Linked DNA regions of Homo sapiens. The protein of the gene in region 1 interacts with the protein of each later gene in a biochemical or structural test. Each region holds a gene or a part of one and is shown on either strand. Other genes may lie near its edges.

Region 1 (7,913 bases):
TTTATTTAAAAATTAATTCTATCTCTTTGTTATACTGCATTTCTTTGCAATTTGAAAAGTGCCTGCAAATTGTTACTCTATGAAATAATGCAACACTTATTATAAGATTAGAAAAGATAAGCCTAGGACATAAAATTAAACACTACTTCATAGATAGTAAAACTGTAGAAGGAGTTTCTTTTCCAATAAAAGGTAATATACAGACTGAAAATACCTATTCCAAAATAGCTTAGATAAATTAATGACTGGAAAATTCATAACAGATAATTACTGAGAAGTTTATAAGTCATATTTTATCTCTCAGCATGTAGAAAGACCATTCCTGTCCACAGTGACTCTTGGTAAAATGGAGAATACTTACCAGATAGCTCAAATATCAACTCACTATAATTATACTTGTGTGTTCTTAAAAACTAATTTATAACAACCTCTCCTTTCTTGAATCTGTTTCTTATCCTTTATGCTCCTAGTCTTCCATTTGGTCCTTTTATCATTTTTTTTCTTCATTCCCTTGATCAATATTTATTGAGCCCTATGTGTCAGCAGTCCTTGAAGCTCATTACCCTGTCTGTTATTCAAGCAGAAGCAGTGAAGTGGGATGGAAGTAGAGAGGTGAAACATAGTTTAAATGTTTTCCAAATTTGTTGGTTTATGTTTCTGTGCATATGTGATCTTAATCATATCTGACTTACCACCAAATTAAATTTGAAATTCAGTTATACAGTATCCAAGTTCATGAAAATTAATGAGTTGGTTTCCAAATAATTATTTTTTTAAGAAATAAGATGTTATTTTAGCTTATACTATCTCACAAAGCTAAAATCCAAAGTTCAGTTATGGCTTTCTAGGTTATTGCAATAAATTTCCAGTTCTTAGATTTTTATATTAATACAAATACCTCGTGATCCAGAGCAAATTTTACCATTCTATATCTAAAGAGTTTTCTCCAAGTTGTTCATCAAGTTATGTAATAGATGAGATAAAGCTTCCACTGAAAAACGTCCTATTCATTAAGTTACACCTAATGGGGAAATACTAGAAAACAAAACCAAAAAGTTATCAGACCTCATGTGTTTATTAGAAGAAACCTTTTCTTGTTTATTGAATTATAATTATTTATTTGTTGGTTTTTCCATTATATTGTAAGCAACTTGAGGGGCGAGGTGAGGTCTTACTCTCTGGGTGCCCATCTGAAATGTATAGGTTTCAAGACAGTTCCTGGATTGGATGGATGAAAGAAATAAATGAAATGGGTTTAGCTTTACAGACTATTTTTTTCAACCCATTGGCTTAAAACCTAGAAGTTAAACTTTATAAAGTGTGTGATCAACAGATTATGATATTACTTTGTTGTATAAAAAATTAATTAATTAATTCAACTGCAACTTGTTGCAGGCTTAATATGTGCCAATCACTAGTCTGGGTACTGAGAATTACAGATAAATAAGATCTCTCCATGTAAAACATAGAAGGGAGAGCTGGTTCCACTGAATTTGTCTGAGCTCGTCTTAATTTTAAGTAGTCATTAAACCATGAAAAAAAATAAAAAAGCAAAATGTGTTTTTTTCTGCACCCCCCCACTCACCAAAATGCAAAATCTATTTTTTCAGGTTCCCTAAGTTTTTGCAGGGTTTTACACTTTTTGCTTGTTGCTTAGAAAATGCAATCTCAGCCGGGCATGGTGGCTCACGCCTGTAATTTCAGCACTGTGGGAGGCTGAGGCAGGCGGATCACTTGAGGTCAGGAGTTCTAGACCAGCCTGACCAACATGGTGAAACCTTGTGTCTACTAAAAATACAAAAATTAGCCAGGTGTGCTGGTGCGTGCCTGTAGTCCCAGCTACTCAGAAGGCTGAGGCAGGAGAATTGCTTGAACCAGGCAATCAGAGGTTGCAGTGAGCTGAGATCACTCCACTGCACTCCAGCCTGGGCATCGCAGCAAGACTCTGTCTCAAAAAAAAAAAAAGAAAGAAAGAAAGAAAGAAAAAGAAAACGCAATCTCCTTGTGCAAAGTAATATGCCTTCAGTGACACTATCTTCTGTTAAGCAGTCAAATAAGAAGGAGATGGAACAGAAGAATGAAATCAGAAACATCATAGAAAAGAAAGAAAAATATTAACATAAAATAAATCAGAAAAAAGTTTTGCCCAGTATCTTTCTCATATTATAGTAGAATACTGGAATATCATCAGCCACTAACCCAAAGCAAGCACTGAGAACTGCCCAGAAATGAATAACCCCATTAGACCCATATTTTGTGAGAGTTGTCAGTAAAAACAAACAGTGCAGAAATCCTCTGGATAAGCTCATGAGCAGGCTAAAAGCACTGATAAGTATATACTAAAAGCTTGTTATTGGTTGATCCTCCTAGTGAATCAGATCCTTCAGGGTACTTAGCAGCTGGCAATAAGTAGCAATTTTTTTAAGGCACCAATAACCTGGTCTGGCAGGTTCATTCGTTTCACTTCAGCAGATATTACCTTTGGTTCTTGAGAGAGTCAATCTTTTTAACTTGTACAAGTGTAAATGATAAATCAGGAAAATGTGACCACTTTAGAGAACAACAAAGGTTTTCAAAGTGAAGAGTGCACATTTCTTTAATGAATGGAACTGACCAAACCTGTAGCAATGTCTGCCAGTGTTAAACCCATTCCACCAGATTATCCAAGTTCACCTTACTTACCCCCAACATCTGGTGGAGGTAGTGATACTCTGGCCCTTGGTTATACAGCAAGAAGGTTTTCCAGAAAAGCAGGACATTCATGGAGAGCCAGATGAACTAAACCAATCAGACATGAGAGACAGAAAACAAAAATTGAAAATAATTATTACCTGATGAATAGAAACCACAGGTAAATTCTTCGACACAGTGCTTTCAATGGAACCTAAATCAGTAACTGCAGAAAGCATTTTCAATTAACCAGCAAGCTGAAAACCACTCAGAGGAAAACAAATCTGACTTTACCCAGCCCTTTCACCTGAGACTAAGCATTTGGGTTGCAAATAGGTTTCCTAAATGATTTACAGCTATCCCCTGCCGTACAAAATGAGATTAAGAAATTAATGACATCACCATACCCCAAGCAAACAGAAGTAATCTGGGAAAAGAACAAAGGGAGCAAAAATGTTTAAAGGGTAAAAAGAAAAGCTGTATTCACGGAAAATGACCTCTTCCCTCTTCCTCCACATCTCTCCCATCAATGTGCAGAAAAATTCTCATGCATTTGGGGGACAGGCGAGGGGGTGGGAGGGGGAGTGTTCATTGTTATCTCCAGCATAAAGTTTTGTAAGTTGAGAATGTTCGAATTAAGACAAAACTTCCACTTCCAGCTTCCCACCCGTGCACGCTCAGAGAATGAATCAAAATCACTGCAGGACAGAGAGAACGCAAGGAGAGCCTAGCCCGCCATCCTACCAGGCAGAGGTGTTTAACCCCTTCGTTGGCGAGCCAGCTCCTCCAGGACACAGCCATGCCGCCGGCCCCGCCGCGCTGCGCTCTGTGCCCGCCGGACCGAGAAGGAGCGGGCGGCGGCCGGGGCAGCGGTTACAGTTGTGCGGCCTGCCGGGCCGCTGAGCGAGGACCGAGGGTCAAAGACTGAGTGGAAGCCCGAAGGCCCGGCGCCGAGCCAGCCCGGGCGGGGTCTGCTACCCAGAGCCGGGTTTTCCGGGCGCCCTGACTCCCACCCGCACCGGGTCAGCTCTGCCCACTCAGCTGCCCAGACGCCCAGCGCTCTGAGCGCGCGGCCCAGGCTGCACCAGTCTGCTCCGCCGCGCCGGCCCCTTTGTCTAGGGGCGAGCCTGTTGTTGTGGCTGCTGCTGTTCAGGATGTCCCGGGTGGGAACTTGGAGGCGTCCCCCGCAGCCTCTACCCAGGCCTGCCAGGCTCCAAAATACTGGCAAACATGTGAACAATGCTACTCATACTAAAAGTGGGGACCCTCGCCGCCCCCTTGTACACACACACACACACACACACACACACACACACACACAAGAAGACACAGCTCTTTTAGACTGATTGTTTTCCCCCAAAAAAGTTCATCTCAAAGAGCCTTGGTAACGAAATTTGAGCCGGAAACAGCCTTTTGTGTGCTAGTTCACGTTTCTCCCACCCTTCCTCAGCAAATTATCCCACTCCCAAACTAAAGCCCCCCTGACAGCCTTACCTAAGGCTTCCCACCAGCCGCCAGTTTCTTTATCCCCTTGCCCGCCCATCCCATACTGATAAAAAGGTTTTAAGACATTACTGAATAAGAAGAACCCAGGGAATTAATGGTTAAAGCTGATGTAATTCTTAGGGGCTCTAGGTTAGGTTCACTCTATTCGGGAATCTTTTTGTTTTAATACCTAGTCTGTTTGTAAGTAATAGGAATCCTCTCAATCTTGTACCAGAGGTCCAGTGAAGAGTGAGAAGTGTGTGGAGTTGACCCAGGTACCTATTCGACACTGCAACAAATCAGTATTAGAAAAGAGAGAGAAAAAAATGTCATTCATGTAGAAAAAAATCTGATGCAAAATAGATATCCAATAAAGGTTTGTTAAACCAATAACTTTTCTAGATTTAACAACTAATGAGAGACAGAAAAGTTTACTACTAGTTGCTTAATCGAATGGCTTTTAAACTCTTAAAATAAAAAATCTTACAACACAGGCCATAGGATATAATTAAAACTAAAATTTCAAAAAATACTACTACTCTCACTACATGCAATATACTTATTCCAATTAATTTAATGAACTGATTAATGATTGCAGTCCTCAGTTTTAAAAATCAAAATGAATTCATATCAAGTCCCTGTTAGACTTCACACAATTTTCTAATAGCCTGTTTTTCCTGTTTCATGCATGACCAAATCCAGAAAGCTGTCCTAAATCTTTCTGAAGTTAGAGAGCATATTGTTTATAAATAATACTATGTTCTTTCTGACCATGTGACACCTAAAGGATCAGGGAAAGAGCACACGAAAAACCCAAGGGGTCTCTCCACTGGAAGGAAGTCAAATTCTGGGATGCACTGGTGCTCCTAAGCTTTAATTTCAATAGATGGGGGCAGGAGGTTCATTGGCAGAATAGGTTCTTGTCATGAGTTGAGAAGCGTGAAACAATTCAAGAATAGTAAAATAAGAGACCATTTTTAAAAGCTTAGAGACTTTCAGAACAGCAAAAATAACAAAAAGACAAAAGGTTTAAAAAATGGCTCCAACTCTTAATAATGTACCTACTAAGTCCCAGGCTCTGTCTTTGCTACTTCATATACAAAATCTCACTCCATTCTCATAGTAGCCCTCCATGTGCGTGTTAGCACTCTCACTTTAAAGATGAGAAACGGACTGCCGGGCGCGGTGGCTCACGCCTGTAATCCCAACACTTTGGGAGGCCGAGGCGGGTGGATCACGGAGTCAGGAGATGGAGGCCATCCTGGCCAACATGGTGAAACCCCGTCTCTACTAAAAATACAAAAATTAGCCGGGCGTGGTGGCAGGCGCCTGTAGTCCCAGCTATTCAGGAGGCTGAGGCAGAAGAATTGCTTGAACCTGGGAGGCAGAGGTTGCGGTGAGCCAAGATCGCACCACTGCACCCAACCCAGCCTGTGCGACAGAGCAAGACTCTATCTCAAAAAAAAAAAAGAGATGAGAAACGGAAGCTAAAAGAGATGAAGAAATTTGCTTGAGGTAATGAAACTGGGTTTGCTTCCAATTAAAACAACCTATAATCAGTTACTTTTGTAAAATTATTTTGTAAAATGATGGAATGCTTATATAAATGTTGGTTATTACTTATGGCTATTATTTCATAACTCTGTAAGAGGGGACTGAGATCTGTTTATGTTGCTTTACCAGGAAACAGTACTCCAAGCCATCCCCAAGGGACAGAGCTAGTGTCCTGTTACGCAGGAACTCTCATTAATGAGATTGTTTGCAATACAATTTTCTCTAAGCCAGATTGTTTTATTATTATTATTATTATTATTATTATTATTATTATTATTATTTTAGATGGAGTTTTGCTCTTGTTGCCCAGGCTGGAGTGCAATGTCGTAATCTCGGCTGACTGTAACCTCCACCTCCTGGGTTCAAGCAATTCTCTCACCTCAGCCTCCCAAGTAGAGTAGCTGGGATCACAGGCATGTGCCAACCCGCCCAGCTAATTTGTGTATTTTTAGTAGAGACGGGGTTTCACCACATTGGCCAGGCTGCTTTTGAACTCCTGACCTCAGGTGATCCACCAGCCTCGGCCTCCCTAACTGCTGGGATTACAGGCGTGAGCCACCGTGCCTGGCCAACCAGATTGTTTAATGACATAGTTGCTGTATTTCCCAAACTAGGAAAGGCCATTCTTGAAAGTAATGGGGAGAGAGTTCTGTAGCTACATCAGTATTTTAAATATTATAAGAAAATTCACACTTTCTCCAGGAACAGACTTTACAATAAAAACTCAAATGACAGATACCTTTGATTTTTGGCTGAAATAATGGTAAGCTAGTAGTATAACACTGATCTTCCTATGTTAATTATAAAACCTATTGGCAGTTAGAACTGTTCTTAACCTATTATATATTACTTAAACACAGAAACTTTTTTGTAGACAGTGTTTTTCAAAATATGAAATGCACTGGGGAAATACAATACTCTTTCTACATAATCATTACTGCATTTTCCACAAATTAATTTAATTATACGTATGTGTGTGTCTAATTCTCCTACTCAACTGAACTTCTTAAGGACAAAAATCCTGTCTTACTCCATTTTTATTCTAGGACTTAGCACATAGCTTGACACATAGTAGGAATTTACACAACGTTTATTAGATGAAGGAATAGTGGTTAAGTATATCATCTTTCTTTCCGTGCCTTTCTCAAATCCCAATTTCTCAAGCATAACTCTCCAGTAATATAAAAATAGTTTCTGCTCAGCTTGACAATTAATGACCAGAAAAGGTAAAGAAACGGGGCAAGAACCCCTTAAAATGGATGTTACCAACCCCACAGGTTAAACGATAGGAATTTAAGACAAGTGGGCCCTTCTGTTAGTTTCCTATGGCTGTGCTAACAAATCACTACAGATGTCATGGGCTAAAACAACAGAAATTTATCGTCTCACAGTTCTGAATGTCAGAAGTCTGAAATCAGTATTATTGGTTCAAAATCAAGGTGTTCACCAGATCACAATATTTTCTTTTCTTCTTTTGAGACAGGATCTCGCTGTGTCACCCAAGCTGGAGTGGAGTGGTGCAATCATGGCTCACTGCAGCCTTGACCACCCAAGCTCAGGTGATCTTCTCTCCTTAGCCTCCAGTGTAGCTGGGACTACAGGTGCACACCACCACGCCTGGTTCATTTTTAGTTAGTTTGCTTTTTGTTTGTTTGGTTTTGTTTTTTGTTTTTGTAGAGACGAGATTTTGCCATTTTGCCCAGGCTGGTATCAAACTCCTGGGTTCAAGTGATCCACCAGACTCAGCCTCCCAAAGTCCTGGGATTACATGCATGAGCCACTGCAACTAATGCACCATCTTTTCTGATGTGCTAAAGAGAATCTGTTCCTTGTCTCTTCCAGATTCCAGTGGCTGCTGACATTCTTTGATTTGTGGCTGTATCACTCTAATCTCTGCCTCGGTGGTCACATTGCCTCCTCCTCTTCAATCTGTGTGTGTGTCAAATCACCCTCTGCCTCTCTCTTACCAGGACACTTTTGATTGTATTCAGGGCTCACCCAGATAATCCAGGATAATATCCCTATGCAGGATACTTAAATTTAATCACTTCTGCAAAGTCCCTTTTTCCTTATAAAGTAACTTTACAAGTTCCTGAGATTAGGATATGTTATCTTTAGGTGGCTATTATTTAGCCTAGGATAGCACCTAATTAACCTAGATCATATTAATTTTCTTTCTCTGATTGGATATGCTAGCCTTAGAA
Region 2 (7,784 bases), on another chromosome or scaffold:
CACCCATGAGGTCTGTGGTGAGCACTGACTGTTACTACAGGGAAAGCACAGTGAGCAGTGCCTGGCACATTGGAACTGCTGGGGGATACTAGCCGTCCCTGTCACTGGAGCCTGTGTTTGAGAGCTAGGCTCTGCACACAGACCTGCCACTCGGGCTGGGTGGCCTTTACCAGAGCTGCAGCCCTGCAAACTCCATTCCTCTGCAACACCTAAGCCCACAGTAATGAGCTCACGTGTGCCAGGAGCTGGCGTGCTGCCTGGGCCTGAGACTCAGAAAGGATGGCCAGGATTTCACTATCGGCTGCTATGAATGCTTCATCCCATGGGATGGGCTGTCACCCTTGGTGGGGAAGGGACCTGCTTCCCCATCCAAGGAGGAGTCCTCCCTGTGTGGGGCTCTCCAGGAACTTTAGGGAACCCATTGGGTAGACGTCTTGGTGGGACGTCTTGCAGATTCTGGAGAAGCAGGGCCTGACTCCAACCCTCCCAGACAGAAGCATCAGGCTTGGCCAGTATCTCAGAGCCAGCCCAGGAGGGAGGGAAACTTGGGAGGCAGAGGTGAAGGAGCTACTGAAGGGATGCGTGATTAGTGTACAATGTGCCCAACCAAGCTCAGCTGTGCCAGGCCACAGAAAGGCAGCTCGGGACAGCACTTGTCCCTTTGGAGGCGGTGGGTCACAACCAGCATTTTAAACAGAAAAAAGAATATGACAAAAAAGAAAATATCAGTTTTAATTTTATATACAAAGGGTGTGTGTATGTGTTGGGTTGAGATGTGAAATGTATTTCTATCTCTTGTAATAAAAAAAGGTTGCAGAAATACCAGCTTAAAATTGTCTTCTCCAAGAGTGGGAAAGAGAACATGTATTTATGGCGATCCTAGAATGTGTCAGACCCGTTATTTCACATGGGCTTATTTGGATCTTGTAACTTCTCCAAGACAGGCGTTGCTAAACCCATTTTACAGATGGGGAAACTGAGGCTTGTAGAGGCCAAATTGATTGTTTACAGTATATAACCAGGGTCTGGAACCCTGGTTTGTCTGACTTCAAAGTCAGAGGCCCTGCCACAGCAACAACCAACCCTCCCAACAACCAGCACACACACACAGACACACACGTAACACGTGCACACAAACAAGGGGAAGCGGTGTCCTGGGTTTGACCCTGTGCCCTCCTGCTGTGCAGTCAAAGGCTATGCACCTTGCCCTGTGAGGGGGCTTTCTAGGGAGGTGGCTCATATTTCTGGGCTCACATACAATACGGGTAATAATCAGGGCTGACATACATTGAGCACTTGTGTGCCAGGTTACTTCCCTAACATTTCCCATGCAATCACTTGTTAAGTCCTCCCAATCAAATGGTGGCGCTATTATCTCCATTCCCTCTGGCCTCCTGTCCAGGGACTGGTCATGTAACCTAGACTTGTACCAGGAAAGCAGAAGTCTGCCGGGAGGCTCCTGGGAAAGACGATGTCCTCCCTGAGACAGGTAAGAAGAGTCCCTGCCTCCTCTCTTCCCAGGCTGGCAGCTCCCTTGCTCAGTAGTGGCCCCTTGAGGACACGGGGCCTGGGGCAGTGATGAACATCTTGTAACCATGAGGGGGAAGCCACAGAGTGACCCACCCAGACTCTAACATGGTGAGGCCACTGCCCCAGCCCTAGCACCACTACCTCTGGACTTCTTGCTACTGGCAGAAGCTGATGTCCTTAACCCAAAGCACCTAATGGCGTCTCCCTCCGAGGACAGTCCAGGGACAAACCCTTAGGGAGGAAGAGGGGAATGCACCCACCTTTCTTCTGTCTGATTCGGACGAGGTAGAGGGCCGCCATCAGTAGGGCCACCAGCAAGGTGCACACCACACCCACCACAATATAGATGTTCCGTTCATTAGATCCAGTGTTCTCTAGGGACCACATGGAATAGAGGCTTCACGTATGCAGATTAAAAACAGAAAACCAAACCCACCACTGCTTTTCACCACTAAGCAGGCATCATTAACTGAGAACATCTGGCTGGACCTTCTTAGATGTCTCGAGCCACATGGGCACACTCATGGGTCTGTACACACTTGCCCACGAGACTCATCCATGAACAGCACAAAAACCATGCTGAGGTGCCAGGGGGGAATATATTTGTAGCTGACAGCTACGGAGGAACCCCTGCTGCAGGATACAGGCAGAAATCTCACTCCTGAGGAACAGAAACGTTCCTTCTCATCTGGAGTGAACCACAGAGCGGTCATGAGGGCACCCCAGATCCACTGGAAACTGAATCAGCAGCTGGAAGAAGGGCAGTGCGGCCAGCAGGCTCTGCACAGCTCAGGGGCTGACGACCGGTCTGTGCCCAGCACCTGGGCCATGCACACTGGGCTCAGGAGTTAGCATAGGGGCTCTGAACCAGGACTCTTGAAAATACAATGGAGGCTTGACTGCCCACAGCACAGGTAAGGGGGTCATAGACTAGAACACAGTGGTTCATCAGAAGCAGGGCTCTAAGCCACAGAAAAGTGCTTTCAAATCTATGCTACTAAGTAGCTGTGTGACCCTGGACAAGTCAGTTAAGCCTCCCTCCAAACCCTGGCTGCTTCTTCTGTTACTGGGGCCAACAGTCATCTCTACCTCATTGGCTAACTAAGGATTATGTAACCAACCAACCAACCAACCAACCAACCAACCAACCAACCAACCAGCCAACCAACTGACTCTTTTATCCTCTTTCACTCAAAAAGCATTTACTGAGTGCTTACTGTGGTCAGGCCCTGAAGCTACAATGCTGAGCAAGATAATCATGGCCCCTACCAGCTGAGACTCAGAGCTGAGGGGTCATGAAGCTCATCCCCTTCAACACAGCCAGAAGCAAGTGGAGGCCCAGAGAGAGGCACTGACTTGTCCAAGGTCACACAGCCAAGTATGCAACATAGCTGGCGTGGAAAGCCACACATCCTGTCTCCCAATGCCCTACACATCCCATGAAAACCTGGCATTGCCCAATGCCCTACACATCCCATGAAAACCTAGCATTGCCCAATGCCCTACACATCCCATGAAAACCTGGCATTGGCCGATGCCCTACACGTCCTAGGAAAACCCGGCATTGGCCAATGCTCCACACGTACTATGAAAACCCAGCATTGGCCGATGCCCTACACATCCTAAGAAAACCTGGCATTGGTGAAACCAAAGGGCCACTTTGACACAGCCCCAAGGCTGTCTTTGAGAGCTTCCCTGAAGGGTGCATGAAGGACAGAAATGGCTTCCATTCTAATCCATTCAAGGGTTCTACTATGTACAGGGCATCAGCCACATTGATAACAGGTGATGAAATATTCCATGGCTGCACTGAAATGCCAATCAGGTGCCACCATTTGAAAACAAAAGAGATGTACACCAACACCACGTTGCAAGGGCTGAGAAAATGATACCTTGACACCCTCACACTCTCTCAGGGGAGCGACAGCATTATCTCCTCCTTACATGAGTATGCATTTTGGCCTAAAGTGTTCCTTGGGCAATCACACAGAAATAGTCACATGTGGGATGGAACATGCACAAGGATGTTCACTGAAGCACTGACTGTATGTGAGACAAGCTGCAAACACCCTGAATGACTCCACCCTGGCTTCCAGTGGGGCAGGCTCCCAATGGCAGCCAGGGAGATGAGGCAGGGGCTAGAAAGAGTAGGGAAGAGGGGCTGGGCCAGTGAGGAATGGGGAGCATGACAACTGTCAGGTGAAGAAGGCAAGAGGCAGGACACCATGAACAGATGGGCCCCCTCTCTCCCTCTTTCCTCCTGTGATATAAATCTATGTCAAAAGATCTATCAAGATGTGCATCAAACTCTTACCAGTGGTGACTCTTGGAGTGTGGGATTTGGGGAAATGGAGCTGACATTAAAATTCTACTTTATATTTATAGACTTCTAGATTGTTCTATAATAAGCATGAATTACTACTTTTAACATTTAAAAAACCCACAAAACTAAAAGTTTAAAAAAGCTGGGTCAGCTGAAATAGAGGCCTCACCAGCGGCGGTATTTGAGCCCTGCTCCTTCGGGTGGGCTGAGACCTTCAGGTCATGGCTTTTGCTGACCGCTGGCTGCCCGTCATGCTCCACCTGGCAGGTGAGCTTCACATCATCCCTGTGGGCAGATACATTCACCAGGAGCCAGCTCATCCAGTTGTAGGTACCATCCTTGTTCTCTGTAACGGTTGAGGCCGTTTCTGTCCGGGACACGTTTCCATTCTCCAACCAGGTCAGCTGTAGTCTCTGGGGGTAGAACTTCCTCACCTGGCAGGTGACATTCACCTGGTTCTCTGCCCTCACGGGCTGTTGAGTAACCTCCAAGGTGGGTGGAACTGAAACAGCACAGGGCAGAAGCTCTGACCTTGTGGCACAGACAGATCACAGGGAGGGCTCCATAACGTAGCTCCCCCACCACGGTGAGGTCATCACCAGGACAGAGCTAGGCAGGCATCAGGTGCTCAGACATTGAGGGTGCTCTTTGCATATGAATGAAATTACTAAGCACAACGCCCAGCACACAGTAGGTGCTCAAGGACTGGTAGCTCCTACTAGGCTAAGAATGAGGGAAATCTATAAGCACCACCCCTGGCATGCAGTTGGAATGTTGTAACTGTAGCAAAATAAAGAAAATCACCAAGCACATAGAGGCTTAGTTCATAGTAGGTACTCATTAACTGTGTTTGCTATCAGTGAAATAAATGAAACGGCTAGCACAGTCCTTGGCACCTGGTGGGTGGTGTGGTCACCCAGCCACTGCCATTAAAATGTTAGTAAGTGGCTGGCACATCTAGGGGCATGGGAGGTGGGCAGTTAGGAATTTAGGTTCCAGGCATTTCAAGCCCTGGAGCAAGAGTAGAGCTGGATGAGTGGAGGGTGGTGGGGGGTGGGCTTGGCGGTCAGGTGTGGGCTTGGGCTGGGTGAGGGTCTTCTACCTCGGATGGTCTCAGACAAGTTGGCAGTCCCACGAAGAGGGTCCCCCTGCAAGGTGACGTGGGCCACCTCGCAGATGACTTGAGAGTGAACGTCCTCGCGGGTCAGCACCACCTTGGCTGTGCTGTGGATGCTGTAGGACACGCTCTCTCCTACGGGGTCCACGTTGGTCTGGAAGTCTGAGAGCTCATTCCCATTTTTGAACCATTTCAGGGTGATGTCTCTGGGTGAGAAGCCGTGGGACTCGCAGGTGAAGCTCACTGTGTGCTGAGGTGTGGCCCTCGCCGCAGGGCCCGATACCACGGGGGCAGAGGGTTTGGCTACAAAAGGACCATCGATAATCAGGAGACATGACTCAGATGACAATCACTAACGATAAGTGTGTGACACGTTAAGAACCTTCTGAGACATTATTTTTTATCCTTCCAATAATGTGGAAGGATTAATGAGGGCGGTGTCCTTATTGTCATTTTACAGAGCAGGATGCAAAGGTTGGGAGAGGTGAGGACCCATGTGAGGTCAGACAGTGTAGGGGCAGGGCCCAGAGGGAAGTCCAGGCCTGAGTTCAAACTTCTCCACTCCACACAGGGTGACTTCCAGCAATTTGGGCACAGGATCAAAATTAACGATCCATCTCATCCTTGGTATTAACTGTTTCTACCCTGCCTCCCCTGGCAACAGTGCCAACCTCAGAGAGAGCGTTTATAGAGGTCAGTGCAGGGAGTAAGCAGCAACGTGGCATCACCATGAGAGCTGGAACCAGGCCGCTCAGCCCATGAGAGGGGCGGCCTGGCACACCCAGCTCCTTGTCTGTAAAATGGAACAGCAGCATTTCTCCTTTCTGGGATGCAGCGAGGATTAAATGAGGCAACAGAAGCAGTTTTGCTTTGGATAAACACAGAAGATGCTTCACAAAAATAAGCAAAAACAGATCTAACTTTAACCCAGACTTTATTCATATCCAAAGCTCTCTCTTCAGGTATTTATGAATTTACTTCATATTTTTCATTTTCTCCACAAATATTCCAGCAGGGTCTAATCTGTGCCAAGTGCTAAATTTGAAAGGAAGGGATACTTTTCTGAATCTGCGGTCTTCTTTGGTGTCAGTTTTAGATAGACACTAAAGATCACCAAGTGTGGAGAAAGCCAAAGTGGTTAATTATCAATTAATTACACAGACACAGGGCGCCCAAGCAGGCAGAAGCACTTCCTGGGTCCTGAAAGCACACACATGGCTGAATCAGAACGCGGGCTGTTTCTCCCTGCAGATGGGTCGTAAACGTGTCTCCAAATTGCTAATCATTACCCCATACCTCCTATCGCAGTCACCAGGAAGCACATATCACACATACTTGCATTTGTAAATATTAACTTCTCCCTCACACCCATCAAACATTTTGAGGGCACAGTAAGGAGGGTGTCACTTGAAGAAGTCAAGTCATTGAGGCCAGCGGCCTGGATGTCCCCACAGGGCTGAGGGGCTGCAATCAGTTCCCATTTATCCAGGGCTTCTCTGGAGCTGGACACTGGCTGCTCCCTCCATGCCCGTCAGCTCTTTAATCCTCACTCCATCTCTGTGAGGGGATCCTCGTGTGAGCCCCTTTTAGGACAAAGCTCAGAGAGGCCCAGGGCCAAAAGTGGATACAAACCCCACCCTGTTAAGAAGAGGGAGGATGAATGCAAGCACAGAGCCTGGTATGCAGCAGGTGCTTAATAAATGACCCCTGTGACTGTTATCAGGAGGTCTGGTCATTACTGCTTCCGAATCTACACATTTATCCTTCAGGCAGCAGAACAAAGCAGAGCAGAAACACCAAGAAAAGGCTCAAACCCTGCTCCCTGTGGCTCATGACAAACCCAAATGATACAAGGAGCAGAAACCACCAAGTGAGGATTCTCTCCCCTTTTCTAAACAATCCCCTCAGGAAACAAGTTTGGCGAATTGGCTTTCAAAACACAAGATCACAGGCGCCTCCCTCCAGAAGAGCCATTTACAGAAGCTGGAAGCATTTTAAAGGAGGAGGGAACAGACTCCTCCGTGACATCTTGGTGTGTCGAGGCAGGGAGGGTTCTGGGGCCGAATTGGAAGGATTTGCTGGGATTCCGGCGGTCATTTAGACAAAAACATTTTCAGGATGGAAGGTTTCCCCACACTGAGGCTGGATCTGAGCAGGGCTTTGTCTGGGGCCCCTACCTTGGCCCCCGAGGCCTGTATCATAAGAGGGGGTCTGGCCAGGCCACTGGGGCCTCCAAAGAGCTGTCCCGGGTGCACGTTGTTCAGAAGCATCCACACCCTGAAAAGCTGTTCTCCCATCTGGCACCCCAAGAGGACCATCTTTTCCAACTTGTCCTCCGTGACCTCTGGGTGTCTATCCCAGGGGTTTTCAGTCCTGACTCTGTATTAGAATCTTCTGGATTAATTAAAAACTTTAGATGCCTAGGCCCATGCCAGGCCAATTGAAGAGGCATTTCTGTGGTGGAGCCTGGGATTTATTTCAATGTTTCCCAGATGATCCTAAAGAGCAGCCAAGATTGAAAACTACCTGAGTACATCCTAAGGACCATTTATCCTTGAGGCCTGGAGGAGCACTAACCCATCTGAGGTTGCATGGCTTCAGCATCACACAGCTCACATCTGTTGAACATTGACTGCAGGCCAGGCGCCTGCTGCCCTAAGCACGCTACAGGATTTAACTCATTCGGTCCCAACTCCTGGTCTGTGAGGTTGGTGTTATCACTGACAAGTGAGGACACTGAGGCCCATGGTGGTGGAGTGCCTTGTCCCAGGTCACAGAGCCAGGAGGTGGCAGAGCTGGGATGTGGCCCAGGCA

The links.
Region 2: the proteins of NOX4 (region 1) and SIRPA form a complex in vitro, tested with the Homo sapiens proteins (one study listed by BioGRID).

Annotation. Positions count from the first base shown.
Region 1 is NC_000011.10:89,487,776-89,495,688, forward strand, and holds the start of NOX4 (NADPH oxidase 4), read right to left. Parts: upstream 3,601-7,913; 5' UTR 3,472-3,600; coding exon 3,415-3,471; intron 3,204-3,414; exon of another isoform or gene 3,198-3,203; coding exon of another isoform or gene 3,078-3,197; intron 2,986-3,077; exon of another isoform or gene 2,910-2,985; coding exon of another isoform or gene 2,832-2,909; intron 2,779-2,831; coding exon 2,683-2,778; intron 1,219-2,682; exon of another isoform or gene 1,074-1,218; intron 1-1,073. UniProt on the Homo sapiens protein: NADPH oxidase that catalyzes predominantly the reduction of oxygen to H2O2. Can also catalyze to a smaller extent, the reduction of oxygen to superoxide. May function as an oxygen sensor regulating the KCNK3/TASK-1 potassium channel and HIF1A activity.
Region 2 is NC_000020.11:1,918,884-1,926,667, reverse strand, and holds part of SIRPA (tyrosine-protein phosphatase non-receptor type substrate 1 isoform 1 precursor), read right to left. Parts: intron 5,274-7,784; coding exon 4,956-5,273; intron 4,356-4,955; coding exon 4,023-4,355; intron 1,905-4,022; coding exon 1,791-1,904; intron 1-1,790. UniProt on the Homo sapiens protein: Immunoglobulin-like cell surface receptor for CD47. Acts as docking protein and induces translocation of PTPN6, PTPN11 and other binding partners from the cytosol to the plasma membrane.